Linked DNA regions of Homo sapiens: region 1 is linked to region 2. The links come from fine-mapping of genetic effects on gene expression. A gene starts in region 2. The other region holds a variant in brackets. All regions are shown on one strand. Distances are from middle to middle. Region 1 overlaps DNAH8 (dynein axonemal heavy chain 8). Region 2 holds the start of DNAH8 (dynein axonemal heavy chain 8).

The links. PIP is the estimated chance that this variant, and not a neighbour inherited with it, causes the effect.
Region 1: its variant is fine-mapped to the expression of DNAH8 in testis (GTEx, PIP above 0.99).

What each region holds. Positions count from the first base shown.
Region 1 is chr6:38,779,577-38,787,576 of GRCh38, reverse strand. DNAH8 (dynein axonemal heavy chain 8) reads right to left here. Exons shown (of 93, transcript NM_001206927.2): 15 at 7,512-7,611; 16 at 6,204-6,323; 17 at 4,438-4,573; 18 at 625-812. Among named protein-coding and RNA genes, the nearest start is that of DNAH8, 68 kb to the right of the region's middle. The variant T/C (reference allele first, on the strand shown) is at 4,465.
Region 2 is chr6:38,710,001-38,720,204 of GRCh38, reverse strand. DNAH8 (dynein axonemal heavy chain 8) reads right to left here and starts at 4,894. Exons shown (of 93, transcript NM_001206927.2): 1 at 4,790-4,894. DNAH8-DT (DNAH8 divergent transcript) reads left to right here and starts at 4,990. Exons shown (of 2, transcript NR_186581.1): 1 at 4,990-5,139; 2 at 5,907-6,035. RefSeq lists a silencer at 4,858-4,907.

The DNA of each region.
Region 1 (8,000 bases), 68 kb before region 2:
TTACAAGCGTGCACCACCACACCCAGTTTCGTCATGTTAGCCAGACTGGTCTTGAACTCCTGACCTCAAGTTATCCACCCACCTCGGCCTCCCAAAGTGCTGGGATTACAGGCATGAGCCACTGCACCCGGCAGTACATGTTAATGTCAGTTTTTGCCTACCATTTTCATTTTGTTAGATTTTACTTTGCCGCACTAGTGAACTTTAATTGAAATAATGCTCCTTTTTGCCCCACAATGTTGAGAATCACCTCTACTTGTATTGTATAGTCACCCCACTTTATTAATTTATATCTTATAAATATTCTAGGATAAGTATATTATAAAATTTAATGCACAAGATCTATAAAATTATATTAAGAATAGTTTTTGAAACTTGCTATTTCGTCAGTCATTATCCAGAAACCTAAATCTGATTTCTGATAATCTTCTCACTTTTTGCTTTCCATTTCCAATCTTTTCTTTGGTTTGCAAGTCAGTATTTTAATTCTATCAAGAATCAACATATTAACAAATTTTCCCTCAATGCCATGAAGCATAACTGCAGGGATATATATATATATATACATATTTTTTTTACCAAAAAACTCCTTCAAAAATAATTAGAAAACATAATCTATCTTACCTGCAAATACAGTTTGTCTGCTTTCAATTTACTTTCCAATTTTAGCAATCTCTTTGCCTGTTCTGGTACATCCAACTTCATTTTTATCATACACTTAGTTTCCCGAACAACTTCCAAAATTTTGGGATCGAAATTAACCAGCAACTTCCCTGTTTCTGGATGTCGCACAAAAAGCGTGGCTTGTAAAGCTACAAATAAATAATGATTGACATTACTCATTCTGAATTTCCTTTCTGCTTCCAGCTGTGTTTATATTTCTGTCTTGCCCCCTGGATTACTAACTTCTTGAGGGCAAAGGAAATGTTTTGGATGCCCCAGGTGCTAAGGCACAGCGTCTGGCACATAGTGAATACTCAAAACTAAGATAAATGAATGAAGAGTGTCTGCAAAGCCACAAAATCAGATCCAGGGAGAGAAACATTGACCAAGAATGGTGCTTTGTGCTATGAATTGCAATATTTTTCTGAGTGGGTTGAATAGGTCTATGTCAGTTTATCTTATGGATTATGACTTCACCCCTGAGAAAGAACCAGAAGATGGTTAGAATCACAAAAGATGCCCCACCTCATTTCAAACTCTTTCCCACTCAGACCCCAAACTGTCTTCTTTAAAGAGGCTTATTTAAATTAAATCTCCATCCTGTATTTCTGATAAATAGGCTCAAAATCAGTAAGAAATATTTATTAAATACCATTGAGTTGTGAAATCCTGGAAAGGAGGGAAGATGTTTTACACTACATCTCACATAAACATCATTCATATAAACAAGCATTTTCAGATATCTATTTTATTATGAATTGAAATACATAAGCCCAAGCAGTTCTTACTGGGTAGCCTTAGATTATTTGTTAGCTTAACATGAAGAACTTCTACAGGCATAATAATAAAACACTTATTATAGACAAGCATGTGCTAGTTTGAATTACATCTTGTATTAACAAACACTACTAACATGAGAATTTTATCACAATTACCAAATCTTCCAAACCTCACATTGTTTTGTTGAATGTGGCCACATCAAACTTCTAGTAAAATAAAATAGTTTGTATATCTCTTTGAAGTTAGTTGACTTTTACTCATCAGATAAAATTAGTCTTGATATGGCCCTTAATGATGCAGGTTTTCAAGCTAAATGACAATTTCAACTTAAAATTTTATCCAACTCGCTTAGAATCTTTTTAAGATGGATTAGAAATCACTTATCCTAACAGAAAACCAAGCACTGCATGTTCTCACTCATAAGTGGGAGTTGAACAATGAGAACACATGGACACAGGGAGGGGAACGGCACACACCAGGGCCTGTCGGGGGGTGGGGAGCAAGGGGAGGGAAAGTATTAGGACAAAGTACCTAATGCATGCGGGGCTTAAAATCTAGATGACAGGTGGACAGGTGCAGAAATCCCAGAACTTAAAGTAAAATAAAAATAAATAAATAAATAAATCACTTATCCTACCAAGGAAATTCCAAAAGAACTTTTGAACATTTAAATCTGTCTTCCTTAAAACTGTACTGAGCTTGCTTGAAAAGACAAAAAGGTCAAGACAACTAAAACAGACCAATAATGACAGTCAGGAAGTCTGCTCCAGGACAAGACAAGCATTTCATCGTATGTGAACCACCATCAGAGAAACTTTACTGAGCAACCAACTAAAGGAGGCTGATGCTACATATCCAATTATTACTAGAAGCTCCTATGTGGCCAAGTACAGTCACATCACTAGGACAAAGGAAGCCTTCCAGAGCAATTCATTTCTGAAATGAAATGAAAGAAGTTAAAGAATTCTACTGACTGTTTGTTTTACTTGTGAAAAAACACGAAAGAATTCTACTTCATATTGAAAGTATGAAAGAATTCTACTTCATATTGTTTGTATGTGATCACTTCTCCTGGACATCAATCCACTGCAATGAGTATAGTGCACCCAATAGAGGCCAACTGATGTTCTCAAGGGGAACAAACTCTTCTGAAAACTTGATAAAATTATTACTCATCAAGATTGTCTAATGTCTACTTATTGGACATTTTTAAAATATTTTAAGAGCCCCCAAGCATGCCTGGCATCATTCTTGACACTGTTAGAAACAGTACAGTATTTTAAATGGTTAAGAGAACGGATTTGGAAGCCAGACTATCTGAATTTGAATGAGCTGTGTGATCTTGGGCAAGCCACTTAATGTGTCAGTGTCTCAGTTTTCTCATCTGTAAAACAAGGCTAATAATAGTTCCTTGTAGGTTTGCTGTTAGGATTAAAGTAATTTGCATAATACATGTAATGTGCTGAGACAAAGCCTGGCACATGGTGAGCACTGTATAAATGTTAGCTATGACCATTTTTTAAAGGATATCAGATGAAACAGACATAGAGGGTAACCTTGGAAGGTGTAGGGGACACAAGGTAGATCTATAAAGCAGTAAGTGTCCTGAGAAAGAGCTACAGATAAAGTATATGGTGGGCTCTGGAGGAATTATTATTTTCTGCCAGGAAGAATAAGGAAAGGCTGTATGAAACAGGTGACTGTAGAGCTTGTTTTTGAATATGTGCAGATAAGAGAAAGGGTATTGGGGGTAGAAAAACCACCAGGAGAAAAAGAAAATTAAGTGCGCGGCATTGTAGAACCAAAACAAAACCAGTATATGCTTCAGTTGTTAAAAATTCTCTTTTGCCTTTTTCCATAGTCTGAGTTTTAAGCTCCTCTCGAAGCTCCTTTGAGAGTTCTGCTCCATAAACAGGCTTTCTTTAGAGTCCACAGGGTCCTACCATATAGCACAGCACCCAGAAACAGCTGGCCTGATAAAAGTGGCTTATTAAAGGCTTACCTACGGTTCCTGTTAGGGACGACACCCTGCGGGGGTTGGGGCACTGTCCTCTAGGATGCAGGTATGCTGTGAATCAATGGCCTGTAAATAAGTGCTGTGTCCCCACACAGCTAAAATACATGAGTTCTGGAACCAAGAGGCAGAAGTAGGAGTGACTCCTCTCACCACCGTTCCAGCAACCCACCTGCAGAACTTGTGCTTCCTGCGCCTGCAATGCTGTGCTCTGCTGAGGTGGAGACGCTGGTTTGGGAGGGAGAAACCTTTCTACCAAGGGACCCAGTAAGGGGTCCACCAAGGTCACGTATAAGAGTTTAGGGTTGAGATTATAACTAAGAGTTTAAGGTTAAGATGAGACAAAGCAGGAATCTGAACTGACCAACCATTGAGCCCACACAAAAACAACATCCAGGAGGGCTGGATAATGGCTAAGAACCATCCCGTCTCACATTTAACTCCGCCCAAAGCCTTGGCAACACATAAGCCCTCCCCTCAGAGGCACGCAGACACAGTGCACTAAAACGCTTCATTTACTGGAGCTCAAACCTGAAATTAAATTCAGTAATAAAAAAGGGAGAAAGTAAAGGAGAGACACAGGAAGGAAGGGAAGCAGGGAGAGAGGAAAGAAGGCAGGATGCAATTTTTTCTCTCCAGAATGGGACTGAGATTTGAATCTATATCATGATACAACTGAATATGAACACTTTCATAAAGTCTGGAGAAATATCCCTAAAGATATTTTTACTTTCAAATACTGGTTTTTGGTAGAAAGTCCTAAGTTAAGTATGTCATCTTCAAGGTCATGATCATTTTCACTTATAAAATCAGAATATTATTAACAACTGTAAACAAATAAACCACTGTAGCATCCCTAAATCTAAATTGTAACTATCCTAAGATTATGTGGAAGGGATGGAAAAAGTTCTCCAGAACTATGAACTCATTCAAAATCACCTAATCCCTACTTTGTAGGCTCATGGCAGTGTTATACACACCGTAATGCAACTGTGAAATCTCTCTGA[T/C]CCAGGCTGTGTGATAGACCACCTCGAATTCCACCAGCACATAGGAGATCTTGTTATACTGACGGATGACAGCTTTACCGTCCGGACTTGATAAAATGTCTGAGTTTTTCTGTTTTTTTAAGGGAAAAGATTTACTTTAAAAGACTGCTGAATGTTTTTATATCCAAATAATGAAAGTACTTATATGTAAAATGATATCAAATAATTATGCTACCAGTTTAGATTCTGCCTCACAGTAAAACAGAGATGGGGAAGGCCATATCAGCAAGAAGCAGAAGTAGGGAAACGTTATCAGTATATAGAGGGAAGACTGGAAAAGGAAACAAAGGGTTTAGAAAGAGAGAGGCCTCCAGCCCCACAGCCTGCCCCAGGCATTCAGTGTCTCTACCTCCTTTTCTGATCCCATCCCACTGTTCTGGACAAGATATAATTGACTGATGTTCCTTGAACCATGAATAACAGGGCAAATTCCTAAATTCCAGCACGCAAAAAAAGGTAACCATGTATCAAACGATAAAAATAAAATTTCTTGGCCGGGTGCCGTAGCTCACGCCTGTAATCCCAGCACTTTGGGAGGCCAAGGCAGGTGGATTACCTGAAGTCAGGAGTTGGAGACCTGCCTCGCCAACATAGTGAAACGCTGTCTCTCTAAAAATACAAAAAAATTAGCCAGGCATGGTAGTGGGTGCCTGTAATCCCAGCTACTCCAGAGGCTGAGGCAGGAGAATTGCTTGAACCCAGGATGCGGAGGTTGCAGTGAGCCGAGACTGCGCCACTGCACTCCAGCCTGGGCGAGAGAGCAAAACTCCATAATAAATAAATAAATAAATAAATATTTAAAAAATAAATAAAATTTCTTTATTTAAAAATCAAAAGATTTAGGTTTCGATTCACATGTCAAACAGGGCAATCTCTGCCCTCTCACCACAAAGTCAATCAGCAACTGAGTCCCCCGAGTAGGGACTCAGGGTTTTAATTTTTTTTTGATATTCAGAACAATGACACAAATGATGGCAGCAAAAGAGAAACAACAGAATCTTCATATTTAATAATGCTGAAATAATACAATTACTTGCAAAACTACTGTTTTGTAGTTATATTGTTCTATATTTCAGCAAAGGGCACGAGATCAAGCAAACCAACTCCACCTTGTGACTCTGTCTCTTAAATAAAATTTAAGAAAATAATAAGGACAAAGAAAAGACAAACTGGCAATTTCAGAATGCCAACAGGGCCCAAGACTGTCCTGTTTTTCAGAAATCTAATAATCTGAAGGACATAGAGAATGAATCAACTGTATTATATTCCGCTCTCAGTGGCAGTTCTTCATACAGGAATACACTCTTTGGCTTTATCTTCACCTTCACTGAGTATGTATCAGTGACCTATCTGCCCATACACAGAAGTAAGCTTCTGTGCTAGGCCTGTACTTTATTGTTTTCAAATTTTTTATTTTTACTTTTTAAAAGGCTTTACAAAGTGTCCTGTGTTATTAAAAGACATAAAATTATAAGATTCACTGACTTTGAGATAACTGTAATTAGACTGGCTTATCTACTAAACCTGAAGGAATTGACTTTGTCTCTCTCAAGTATATTTATAAACTAAATTTTCCTTGCCTGGTAAAAGAATTGGCTCGTTGTTGGCTACTTTAATGCACACAAATATTATAGGATATGATATATTTGTTATATTAAAACCACCAAAATCCACATATTAAAATTTAATTCTTGGCTTACAAAGAAATAATTGATGGGCTCACTTATCCGGCGATAGAGCTGCCTCACCCAGAGTATTTTTCCTGCTATAGGGGGCATGTTGCGAGCAAGAGGGGGGTCATCTTTCTGAGAATGATAAAGCTGTAATTAAAAATCTGATGTTAATGTTTGAATTCAATACAAGGGAGAAGGCAAAAAATATATACAGCTATATTTGTATTGTTTTATCATTATTCATGTTTTATATACAGTAGGTAGTCAATAAATATGTAAATGCACATCCAAGGTAACCTGAGATTTTGAAACAATGATGTTGACCATATACGACACTTAATTTTCTCTTCACCTTTATTTCCTATTACATGTATTTTTTTTCTGCCCTTATCCCAAATTTCAAGGAGGTATTCAAACGGAGCACATAGCTACATATTAATATCTGTCATAATAGTATCTAGAGCCCATATTTCTATAGGCAAAAATACTAACTTAAACGGGCTTTGCTATACACACACCAGAAAACGGGGGCAATATGATAGTTTTTTTTTAACTTTTATTTTAAGTTCAGGGTTACATGTTTGTTTGTTTGTTTGTTATATAGGTAAACTCGTGTCATGAGGATTAGTTGTACAGATTTTTTCATCACCCAGGTGTTAAGCTTAGTGTCCATTAGTTGCTTTTCCTGATCCTCTCCCTTCTCCCACCCTCCAGTAGGCCCCAGTGTCTACTGTTCCCTTCTTTGTGTCCATGTGTACTCAATGTTTAGCTCCCACTTATAAGTGAGAACATGTGGTATTCGGTTTTCTGTTCCTGCACTAGTTGGCTTAGGATAATAGCCTCTAGCTTCGTCCATGTTCCTGCAAAGGACATGATCTCATTCATTTTTTTTTTGGATGCATAACATTCCATGGTGTATCTACCACCTTTTCTTTACCCAGTCTACCATTGATGGGCATTTGGGTTGATTCCATATCTCTGCTATTGTGAATAGTGCTGCAATGAACATATGCGTGCATGTGTCTTTATGACAGAATGATTTGTATTCCTTTGGGTACATACTCAGCAATGACAAAAACAAACAATGAGAAAAGGACTTCCTACTCAATAAATAATGGTGGGATAACTGGTAAGATCACAGCAAAGAGGAGTAAATCTGGCTGTCCAGCAATATACACTGTCAAGCACCTTCCCACACAGAAGGGAGCGTCAATGCTCCTTAGCAGAGAAAGAATCACTCTGAAAAGCTTGGCATGAGACAATGATGGCAAATATTTTCAGATTTTTTTTCTTTTTGTGCTAATGTACCATTTTATTTATAAACATGACACTTGCCTTCTTAGTAGCATCAAGTTCAGCCACATAGTACTGAAGAATACGCTCTATTGTGTGGTTTATTTCTAATCCCAGACAGGGAATGTTCAGCTTCTGAAACCTAAAAGTAATCAAAGCTGAATGGTTAAAAAGTAAATGAGAAATATACTTAAGACTTGCTGTCATACTAACCATCCATTCATTCATTTGACAAATATTCATACCAGCCCTCATTCGTTGTCCTAGGACAAAGCAATGAACGAGATAGGAGGTACAGTCCTGGTTCTCTTGGAACCCACAATTATCTTATGGAAAAGACAGACATCTGCCAAGAGTAACAAAAATAATTATTTAAATTACAAATGGGTCAGAAATGCCTATAACTAAGAGAGACCTAGACAAGTCTGGGGATTCAAGTAAGACACCCTGAGAAAATGACAAACAGATTACAAGATGAGTGAGGAGATGGCTTAGCAAAGATGGAAGAGAACACATTGACTCTCCCTCTGC
Region 2 (10,204 bases):
GAACAGGTCTCCTGCCATGAAACCCAGGATGGTAGGAAAGTTGGTTGTCCACTTCAATCTCACTTTTCCCATTAGAGAAACCGTAAGACTGGGAGAAATTTTCCATTTGCCTGGTGCCAGGCAGACTGAGGTAAGGAGTGTCATGCTATGAAAGTCCAATTCTCTTACCATCTGCTTAGAGGTTTTTTCACTTCTCTGTGGTACTGGAAATGATCTCATCCTTATATCTGAGTTTTGGGATATTGTTGGTGATAATCTTAACATTGTGTATTTGTTTCCATTTTCTGGTGGTAAGGGAGAAGAAACAGCCAGCTTGCTTCTGTGCCACCATTTTGAAACACAATGTCAGGGTGCATTTTTGAGCTTGGTAGGGTTTTAGGGCTGCAGCTTAATGGTTAGCCCATTCGCAGTAAAAATCTTTGGTGGCAACTCTAATGCTGGGCAGAATAGGCGTCTATCTGTGAAACAGCAGCCCAGGCATTCCTCTGATGCTAGAGGGAATGAGCTGTAATGATCAGCTGCATTAGCTACACCCCCTCCAGGTCTCTGGAGAAGCCCTGCCTCTTGTCTTAAGAATACAACTTCACAGTGGATTGGATGAAGAAATATATACCATGGAATACTATGCAGCCATAAAAAAAACACATGTCCTCTGAAGCAACATGTATGCAGCTAGAGGCCATTATCCTAAGTGAACTAACACAGAAACAGAAAACCAAATACCTCATGTTCACACTTATAAGTAGGGACTAAACACTGGGGATACATGGACATAAAGATGGAAACAAGAGACACTGGGGGTACAAGAAGGGGAAGGGAAGGATGGGGGTTAGGGTTGGAAAACTACCTATTGGGTACTATGCTCACTATCTGGGTGACAGGTTTAATCATACTCCAAACCTCAGCATCATGCAATAAACCTTTGTAAGAAATCTTCACATGTATCCTCTGAATCCAAAATAAAAGTCAGAAAAAAAGACTACTTCAAGCCACAAGTGCTCAGCAACCACAGCTAATGTAGCACCCCCTAGATGTCTTGCCTGAAATCCAGCCCAGACAAGAATTCCTGAAGAATTCAGTCTCATTTAGGAGATAAAGTAACCTATATGAATCAATCAAGAATGTTAAATTGTGATGTTCTGCTGAAAAAGGAATTTAAAGAAGGAAGAGAGAAACGTGGACAAAATAGACAAAGAGGATTTCATGGAGGATTTGAACATTAGTTGGCCTTAAAGGATAAGTAGGAGTCAACAAGAAGCAGAGGGAAGAAATTTAAACAGAGAAGTAAAGAGGTAAACTATAAAAAGCTATGAACAGGTCAAAGCAGGGAAAATTTGGTTGGGAAAAAAAGTTTAGAACGACATCATATCATATTCATTCTTCCAAAAGACCACAAACAGCAAGGATTCAGAATCTGTTAAGATAAATAATAAATGTGGTTTTTATACAAGCAGACTTTTGTGACTGTGAACACTGACATACAGACTCTGTTTCTGCGAATACAAGTGTCTGTGAACACTGAAAATTGATAATCAGGGATTAATCCCTATTGTGACTCAGAAAAAAATAAATTATAAATAATTTGTTATAGTTTAAATTTTGTTAAAATAGATCATATAGCTAAGATTCCCAAAATAAATATATAAATACATGACCACTGCCATTTTGGAGAGATTTTCCTTAAGGAAATCATATAACTTTCCCTCTAATGAAATACTGTAATTTGAGATGCATTTTCTACATGGTTTTTGAGTGTCAAATATTGCTTGGCAGGTAACAAACTCTAAATACTAAAAGATCAACTTATCAACTTATAAGAGTGATGCAATTATTTAATTTTAGGTTAGAAGATGTATGCAACTACTTTATATAGAGGAATTCCTAAAAACTGTAGCAAAAATGAAAAAATCTTACCAACTATATATAGATAGATATACAATATATATACAGACACACATACACACAAGGTTGGTGGTTCACTACAACATGTTTGTAATAGCAAAAACAAGCAAGAAAACACACAGACACATACCCACACCTTGGAAACAACCAAGATGTCCCTTAATGAAGGGCCCACTAATTGTTCTGTACTACCCTTGTTCAATAAAATTTTAATGCATCATTAGCGATACAAAGAATGAGGTAGAGCTATATATGCAGATATGTAAAACTCTCCAAGACACATCGTTACATAAAAAGCAAGACACATTGCATAATAACACCACTCGCATAAAATTTTTAAAGTGTGTATATGTGTATATACGGTATTTCATCAATTCTAAGATGCATACTTTAAGAAGGTTTAATATGCAGCATTTTTTTGTTTCTCAGCATTTTTTTCTTTATGCAGTTACATAAAATACCTAATTTGCATGTACAGAATTGCAAAAAAATTGTAATCAGTAATAGTTTAGATTTGATAAAGTACATTATAAGCTTTCTAGGGAGAATACACAATAAATTATTAATAAGAATCACTCTGAGTGAAAGAAATTGAAGAAGGGAAGTAGAAGAAGAATTTTTACTTTCCAATTTCCTAACTTTCTGTATGGTTCTTTTCTAAAAAAAAAAAAAAAATCATGTGTACATTTTAGTTGTATTACATCTGTGCATATCATATACTGTAACATACAAACTCCTGAGCTCAAGCTCAGGAGTTTGAGACTAGCCTGGGCAACATGGAGAAACCCAGTCTTGACAACAAATGCAAAAAATTAGCCGGGCGTGGTGGCGTGCACCTGTAGTCCCAGCTACTTCGAGGGCTGAGGAGGGAAGATAGCTTGAGCCCAGGAGGTCAAGGCTGCAGTGAGCCAAGATGGCGCCACTGCACTCCAGTCTGGGTGACAGAGTGAGAACCTATCTTAAAAAATAAATAAATAAGACCTGAAATTCCCTACGAATCTACCCCCAAGCATTCACATTCTGCTGATGCAAAGCACACAGAGTGAATGTGGCATCAACACTTGTTCACTTTCTCTGGGTCCTTCTCTCCTTCACAGACAACTTGCTCTGTTGTGCAGGCTGGAGTACAGTCATGTGAGCACAGCTCATTGCAGTCCTCACCTCCTGGGCTCAAGCGATCCTCCTACCTCAGCCTCCCAAGTAGCTAGGACTAAAGGCGTACACAATCACACTTGGCTGTTCTTTTTTGGTTTGGGTTTTGGTTTTTCTGTAGAGATGGGATCTCACTATGCTGCCCAGGCTGGATGCAATCATTTTCAATTCCCACCATCCCTTCTTAAGTTAAATTTTAAGGATTCAGTGAACTTCTGCAAAGTCAACAAGAAATGCATCCTGGTTATTTTCAGGAGCATTTCCAGGTGTTGAACTCCTCCCCTCCTAGGAATACTACAGTAAGTGAGCAAGTTGCATACCTGTGTGCTGGGTACAGCCAATTCAACCACACCCTTTTCTCTTGCACCCATTTCTGTAACCCTATCCCAAATGCATTAGTTCATTCAGCAATATTGAACGTCTTCTGCATGTCTGGCCACTGTGGCTACATAAAAGACTAAGGACTTCTCCAAAGCAAAATGCACAATCAAATTGGTGTGACAGACTATTGAATACAACACAAGATGGTCAATGTCAATGACAGGTGAATTAACGAAGGGCTAAGAGAGCTTAGCAGGCAGCAAAACTTCTGAAAAACAAAAAAAGAAAGAAAGAAAACTTGACGGAGAAGGTACCACCCGAGTCGGGTCTAAAGAAGAGTTGTCAGGAGAGGATGGGAGAGAGAAACATTATAGGCAGAAGGTGGGAACAGTGGCGTACAAAAGCAGAGAAGCAAAAAGAGGCACAACTATCTTGGGAAAAGTGGTAAATTCAGTGATGAGACTTTTGGGCTAGAGGGGAATGAGAAGGGTAGAGGAACGGGAAATAAGCCGGAGGGAGAGGCATTTTTTTTGTTTTATTTTTGAATTTTTAAAAATATATAGGTATATGGCCGGGCGTGGTGGCTCATGCCTGTAATCCCAGCACTTTGGGAGGCCGAGGTGGGCGGATCACAAGGTCAGGAGATCGAGACCATCTTGGCTAACACTGTGAAACCCCGTCTCCACTGAAAATACCAAAAAAAATTAGCCGGGCGTGATGGCGGGTGCCTGTAGCCCCAGCTACTCGGGAGGCTGAGGCAGGAGAATGGCTTGAACCAGGGAGGCAGAAATTGCAGTGAGCCGAGATCGCACCACTGCACTCCAGCCTGGGCGGCAGAGTGAGACTCCGTCTCAAAAAAAAAAAAAAAATATATATATATATATATATATATATATATATATATTTATTTATTTATTTATTTATTTTAATAGCTTTTCGGGTACAGGTGGTTTTTTTACATGGATGCATTGGATAGTGGTGAAGTCTGAGACTTCAGGGTCATCCAGGTAGCATACATTGCAAGCGATATGTAGTTGTTTCATCCCTCACCCCCCTCCCACCCTTCCCCTTCTGAGTCTCCGAAGTCCACTATACCCCTCTGGATGCCTTTGCGTAGCAATAGCTTAGCTCCTACTCATAGGTGAGAACGTGCGGTATTTGGTTTTCTAGTCTCAAAACGGGGAGTGGGTGTGAAGTCACTTAGATGTCCAGTGTAGAGACTGACAAAGGGTAGTGACTCAGCTGGGGTTTTGAAGCAGGGGTTCCCTGGGTTCAACTAACAGAGGTGGAGGACTGAACTGTAGCGTGGATTCCAGTCCCCTAAAAAGAAGGAAAGTGGGCGGGGAACCCGGCTGCATCAGGGCCTCCCGGACAGGGGCCGGGCGCTCACAGCGCGCTCCGACCAAGTACTCACCAGCCGCTCTCTGGGCCCCGATGCCCCGACCACTCAGCCCACTGAGGCCGGCCCCAGCGGTTGCGCTGCCCCGGGGGAGCTGCTCCGGCCTCCGCGGCCCGGAACGAGGCTGACGGTTGGGAGTCCGAGACAGGCTCGCTCGGGGGCGAGGGCTCCGCAGTGCGCAGCTCCCTACGGGGAGCGACTGGAGGGGCACGGGCAGCCCCCGCGCTCCCCAATAAAGGATGCACCCACCGAGCCCGAGGACTGAAACATTGTTTAGGGGACCCCAGGCACTGAAGGGCGGGTTCCTGGAGATGGACATTTGGAGTGCGGTGCCAGGGGCTTGGGAGGATTCCCGCGTATACGTGGTAATACGGAAATATATAAAATAATGTTTTCTATGACCTTTACAGTTTCTGAAGTTACTTAGTGTTTTCCTTGAGAACCTAAAAAGTGTTTCCTGGTGAGTCAGTGTGTTCAGAAACCTGTGACTGATGAGAGAGAAAGATTCTGGGGGAAAACTGACTTCTCTCCCAAGTCCACCCCCTCCCCTCTCTAGTACGGTTCTGCTTTTGCTGTGACTGCCTGACATGATGTGAGCGGTCCGTTTTTAGTTGGGTGTGTTAACCAAAGAAAAAAAAATCAGTCATTTAAATAATTAATATTAGTTTTATTCAGATGTCTTACTAAGGATTGCAATCCGGAGAGTCTTTCAGAGACTTTCTGTGAGACTGCTCCAAAGCTTAGGTACAGGTGGTGGCATGTGATGGGAAGTGGCATCAGATGTGCTCAGCAGTTACATCAAATGAGCTCAGCAGTTACATTAGAGCAAAATCTCATCAAGGGTGGGGTTCAAGGGTACATCTGGTTATAGATTGTAGAGGCATAATCATTAATCCTATCAGCTATTATCTTATTATGTACAGGAAGAGGCATGAGTTAGGATCCTGGAACTTTTGCAAGAAAAGATTCATGCAAGAGATGTTATCATCTTCAGGGGCATTCTTCCAGGGGCTGCACTTAGTCACTGAGTTAGGGGATTTGTGAAATGTAGCTGCCAAAGAATTCTCTGACATTCTGCTGGCAAGCAGAATGAGCAAATATAGCTTCTTACATAAACTATTTTGTCTTACAGGTGTGAAAGTCAGTCTTTGAATGTAGAGCAGATCAATGTGGAATGAGGACTGAAAGGTCTGTCAACTGAAAAAAAAAACAAGAATGAATATAAAAAATCACAAATTAAATAAACCATGGTCCATCCATATTAATAGACATTACTCAGTGATTATACAATATAAGCTTATGGGAGCAAGGGAGTTCCTGAATATCCTTGCTGACTGTGCCGAAATGCAAGACCTACCTACCCTCTAACTCTGAGCCACTTCCTTAACCAATCTTTAGGCAACTCAGCAGGCCACAGCAACCACGGCACGAAAAGGCACAATTGCTCACTTCCTGGGGAGAGGGACTAGCTTGTTTACTGCTCGATACAAAAGATACTGAGCACTTAGCCCTAGATTCTTTACCTGCCTCCCAGTCCACTGCCTGCATCTGGGTCCACGGGGTTGCCCATTGGGACTTGGGGTTGGGGGAACCGGCCTCCCATATGATACTCCTGCCATTTGTTGAGGTAGTGTTGAGGACAAGTGCTCTACCTCTTGTCCATCGAATCTCATTGTTTACTTTTGGCACTGATGGAGCTGGGGCAGGTTTTATACTTGCCTTCTTTTCCTGTCCCTATGCTGTCTCTCTATTCTCATGTAGTAAGAAACAAACCAGAATACCATATTCCTTAATAAAGAGCCTTAAATATATTCATTCATATGCCTTAACCTACAAATGCCTCTTTTGAAAATATATTCCTAAGAAATAATACTAAATATGGACAGAGCTTTGGTTCTAAAGACATGTGTTGCTGTATTAGGTTTGTAGCACCGTGATCCATGCAATAGTTTCATTAACTCTGGCAGAAAACTAGCTTCATGGAATACTGCCAAATGATAGCAACCCTGAGAATGCCTGAGATACAGGAAAACTGTACCTTCCACAGAGTTCTCTTGAGGCTTAACAGAAGGTAAACCCCATGCAGCACTTATATAAGACATTAAGTGCCCACGATCCTGAGTATTAAGTGTCCCCGAAAATACAATGAGGGAACACATATAAAAACACTTAGCACAGTAGTACATGGTAATGGCTAAATCAATGCTAGCTGTTATTTGTAGTAGTTTAGTATTAGTGTGTGTAGTGAAGAAAAATACTGAACCGGTAATCAGGGAAACTGAGTCCTGTTACTGTGCTACTCAACAAATAACCGTTTAGTCGACTAAGCCTCAGATTGTGAAACTGCTCTATTACTGGATGTCCTTATTTGTAAAAAGAAATGGGGGAGTTGAGATAATCTCTAAGTTCCCTTCCAGTTCGAAAAATGTCTAACTCTATGACGAGTTTGGTTTCAAGCCTCATCAATTGAGAGGAAGATGATACTATTGACCGAAATAAAAATGTCAAAACAACCAATTGGAAATGTCTAGGTGTTGTAGGGAATATGCAATTAAGGTGCACAGATTAGCAATATTTGCTATGTTATAATTATCCTAAAGTACCACATGGTCATATTATCAAATAACAATTTAAGTAACCAGTTATTCAAGTAAAACATATATAATATTAAATAACTATCCACAGCTCATTCCTTTGAGCTTTTCTTGAAGGATTATCAGTTTGTGGCTGTAATGGCACATTTATATCTTGTTTAGTGTGGTCCATTCTACTTGCAAACAAAAATCTCTGCCAGTGCAGAAACCTGAAAAACCTGACAATAAGAACCTAAGCAACTGTGAACCCAAAAGTATCTGAGACAGGTTGCAATCAATTCAGAAAGTTTATTTTGCAAATATTTTGCTAACGTTAAGGATGGACCCATGACATAGCCTCAGGAGGTTCTGATGACATGTGCCCAAGGTGGCCAGGTTACACCTTGCTTTTATACATTTTAGGGAGACATAATACATGGGGGTGGGCCTTCCAGGCCACAGGTAGATTTAAAAATCTTCTGATTAGCAATTGGTTGAAAGAGTTATTATCAATAGAAAGAAATGTGTGGATTACAATAAGGGGTTGTGGAGATCAAGGTTTTATCATGCAGTTGAAGGGTCCAGGTAGCAGGCTTCAGAGAAAATAGATTGTAAATGTTTCTTATCAGACTTAAAGAGTGTCTTACCAGTAATTCCAAGAGGGATGAGGGTATAATGAGGCATGTCCAACCCCTCCTTCCATCATGGCCTGCACTAGTTTTCAACCTATCTATTTTCCTATGGTTGGACATTTAGCCTTTATCAATTTTTTCTTCCTTTTTTTTTTTTTGCTATTCAAACCATGTCTCTTATACATGTCTCATGGAGTGCAGACACAATAACCCTTTTCATACCCTTGGCTGAGGGGAAGGGTCCATTCAGATGGTTGGGGCGGCAGGGTGCAGGGGGTTACAATTTTATTTTTGGTTTACACAACTAATAAGATGATGTTCATTAAGGAAAATAAATGTAATCATAAAAGTATTTTAAACATATTCTCAGATTTCCTAATCTTAAATTATTACCAATGAAAAAGAAAAGCCATGTATACGTCCCTTGTAATGGGTTGAATTGTGTACCCCCCACAAAATATGTCCAAGTCTTTTTTTTTTTTTTTTTGAGACGGAGGTCTCACTCTGTTGCTCAGGCTGGAGTGCAATAGCACCACCTCAGCTCACTGCAACCTCTGTTTCCCTGGTTCAAGTGATTCTTCTGCCTCAGCCTCCTGAGTAGCTGGGACTACAGGTGCACAACATCACGCCTGGCTAATTTTTGTATTTTTGTAGAGACAGGGTTTCACCATGTTGGTCAGGCTGGTCTTGAACTACTGACCTCAGGTGATCTGCCGACCTTGGCCTCCCAAAGTGCTGGGATTACAGGCATGAGCCACCGCACTCGGCAATATGTCTAAGTCCTAATTACCATGACCTGTGAATGTGACCTTATTTGGAAAAAAAAAATCTTTGAAGATGTAATGAAGTAAAAAATCTCAAGGTGAAATTGTTGGGGTGATCAGACCCAACACCAGGCCGTGGGGGCTACAAAGTCCAGCGGAGTCAAAGGTCTAGTGGGAACCAGCCCCGCCAGCAACATGGATTCTCTTTCTTATCCCAGGTGGGTCAAACAGAGATGAGTTTGTGAAAGCTGGGTCCAGGGGGATCACCGCAATGTGGAGCTGCAATGTCATCCAAGCACTGGAATAGCCAGCATTTATTATCAGTTTACATGTGGGAGGGGGAGCAAGGGCAGTGAGCAGAGGGTGGTCTGATCATGGGGTGAGAGGATCACATGATTATAGGGTGAGGTCCACAGTAAAGATGTACGGATATACGGAACTGTGAGTTCCAACTGCTAGTTGCATGCATCAGCAATTTAATAGGATCAGGCTTTAACTATAAACTATGTTTAAGATGGTTGCGCAGTAGGCAAGTAAGAACGGGACATGAAACCAGACGACCAGTCTGACCACAATTCTCCCTGGGGGAGGGGCCCCTGGGCAGGCCTAGGAGAGTGGTGGGAGAAGAAGAGCTTTACGCCCTTATCTCAACCACTGAAGCTTTCACTTCCAAACAGACATCCCTCATGCATCCATTTATAGGCTCTCCATAAGGGATGCATTCCTCTCCCAGGGCCTTAATACTTATGCCTTCCTGAGAAAGGAATATGGGTGATGTGTCACCTCCCATCCTGCATGTCCGTCTATAGGCTCTCTGCAGGGGAAAGCACATCAAACGCTGTTAACTCTCACTGGCAGCCAAACCTCATGGTGACTGGCTCAGTCCTTCATTATTGCTTTAATAACCTGATTACTGTTTAACAATCAAGCAATCATCATTATACAAAGGCAAGCATTCTACTAGAAAAACAACACAGCAATTTAGAAAGTTATATGTAGTTCTTTTTTTTTCTTCTGACTTCATTCTAAAATTGCTTACACAAACACTTCCTAAAACTGTCCCTCCATTTCTCCCCAGTCCGGGGTCCTGGGCTTTGCCCATACAAAGGAATGAGAAAAGACAAGTTAAGAGTGCATAAGGTGGGTCCGGGGGCCAATGCTGGTATGGAGGCTGAAAAAGCCCTGAGCTCTGGGATCCTACACTATTTATTGGTGATCAAACAAAGAAGCAGGTGGTGAGGACATGTGGATGTGGGGGTAAACAGGTGAGGGCGTGAGGACATGGGGGTAAACAGGTGAGGGCGTGAGGACGTGGGGGTAGAAAGGTAGCGGTGCATGAAGCATAGCTGTGATGGTTTAGCATTTTCTTTGACACATATAGAATATACTCTGCTGCTTGAGATAATGGAGAACATGTTTACGAGCCTGGGAGAGCAACCAACAAGTCTGTGCACATTCCAG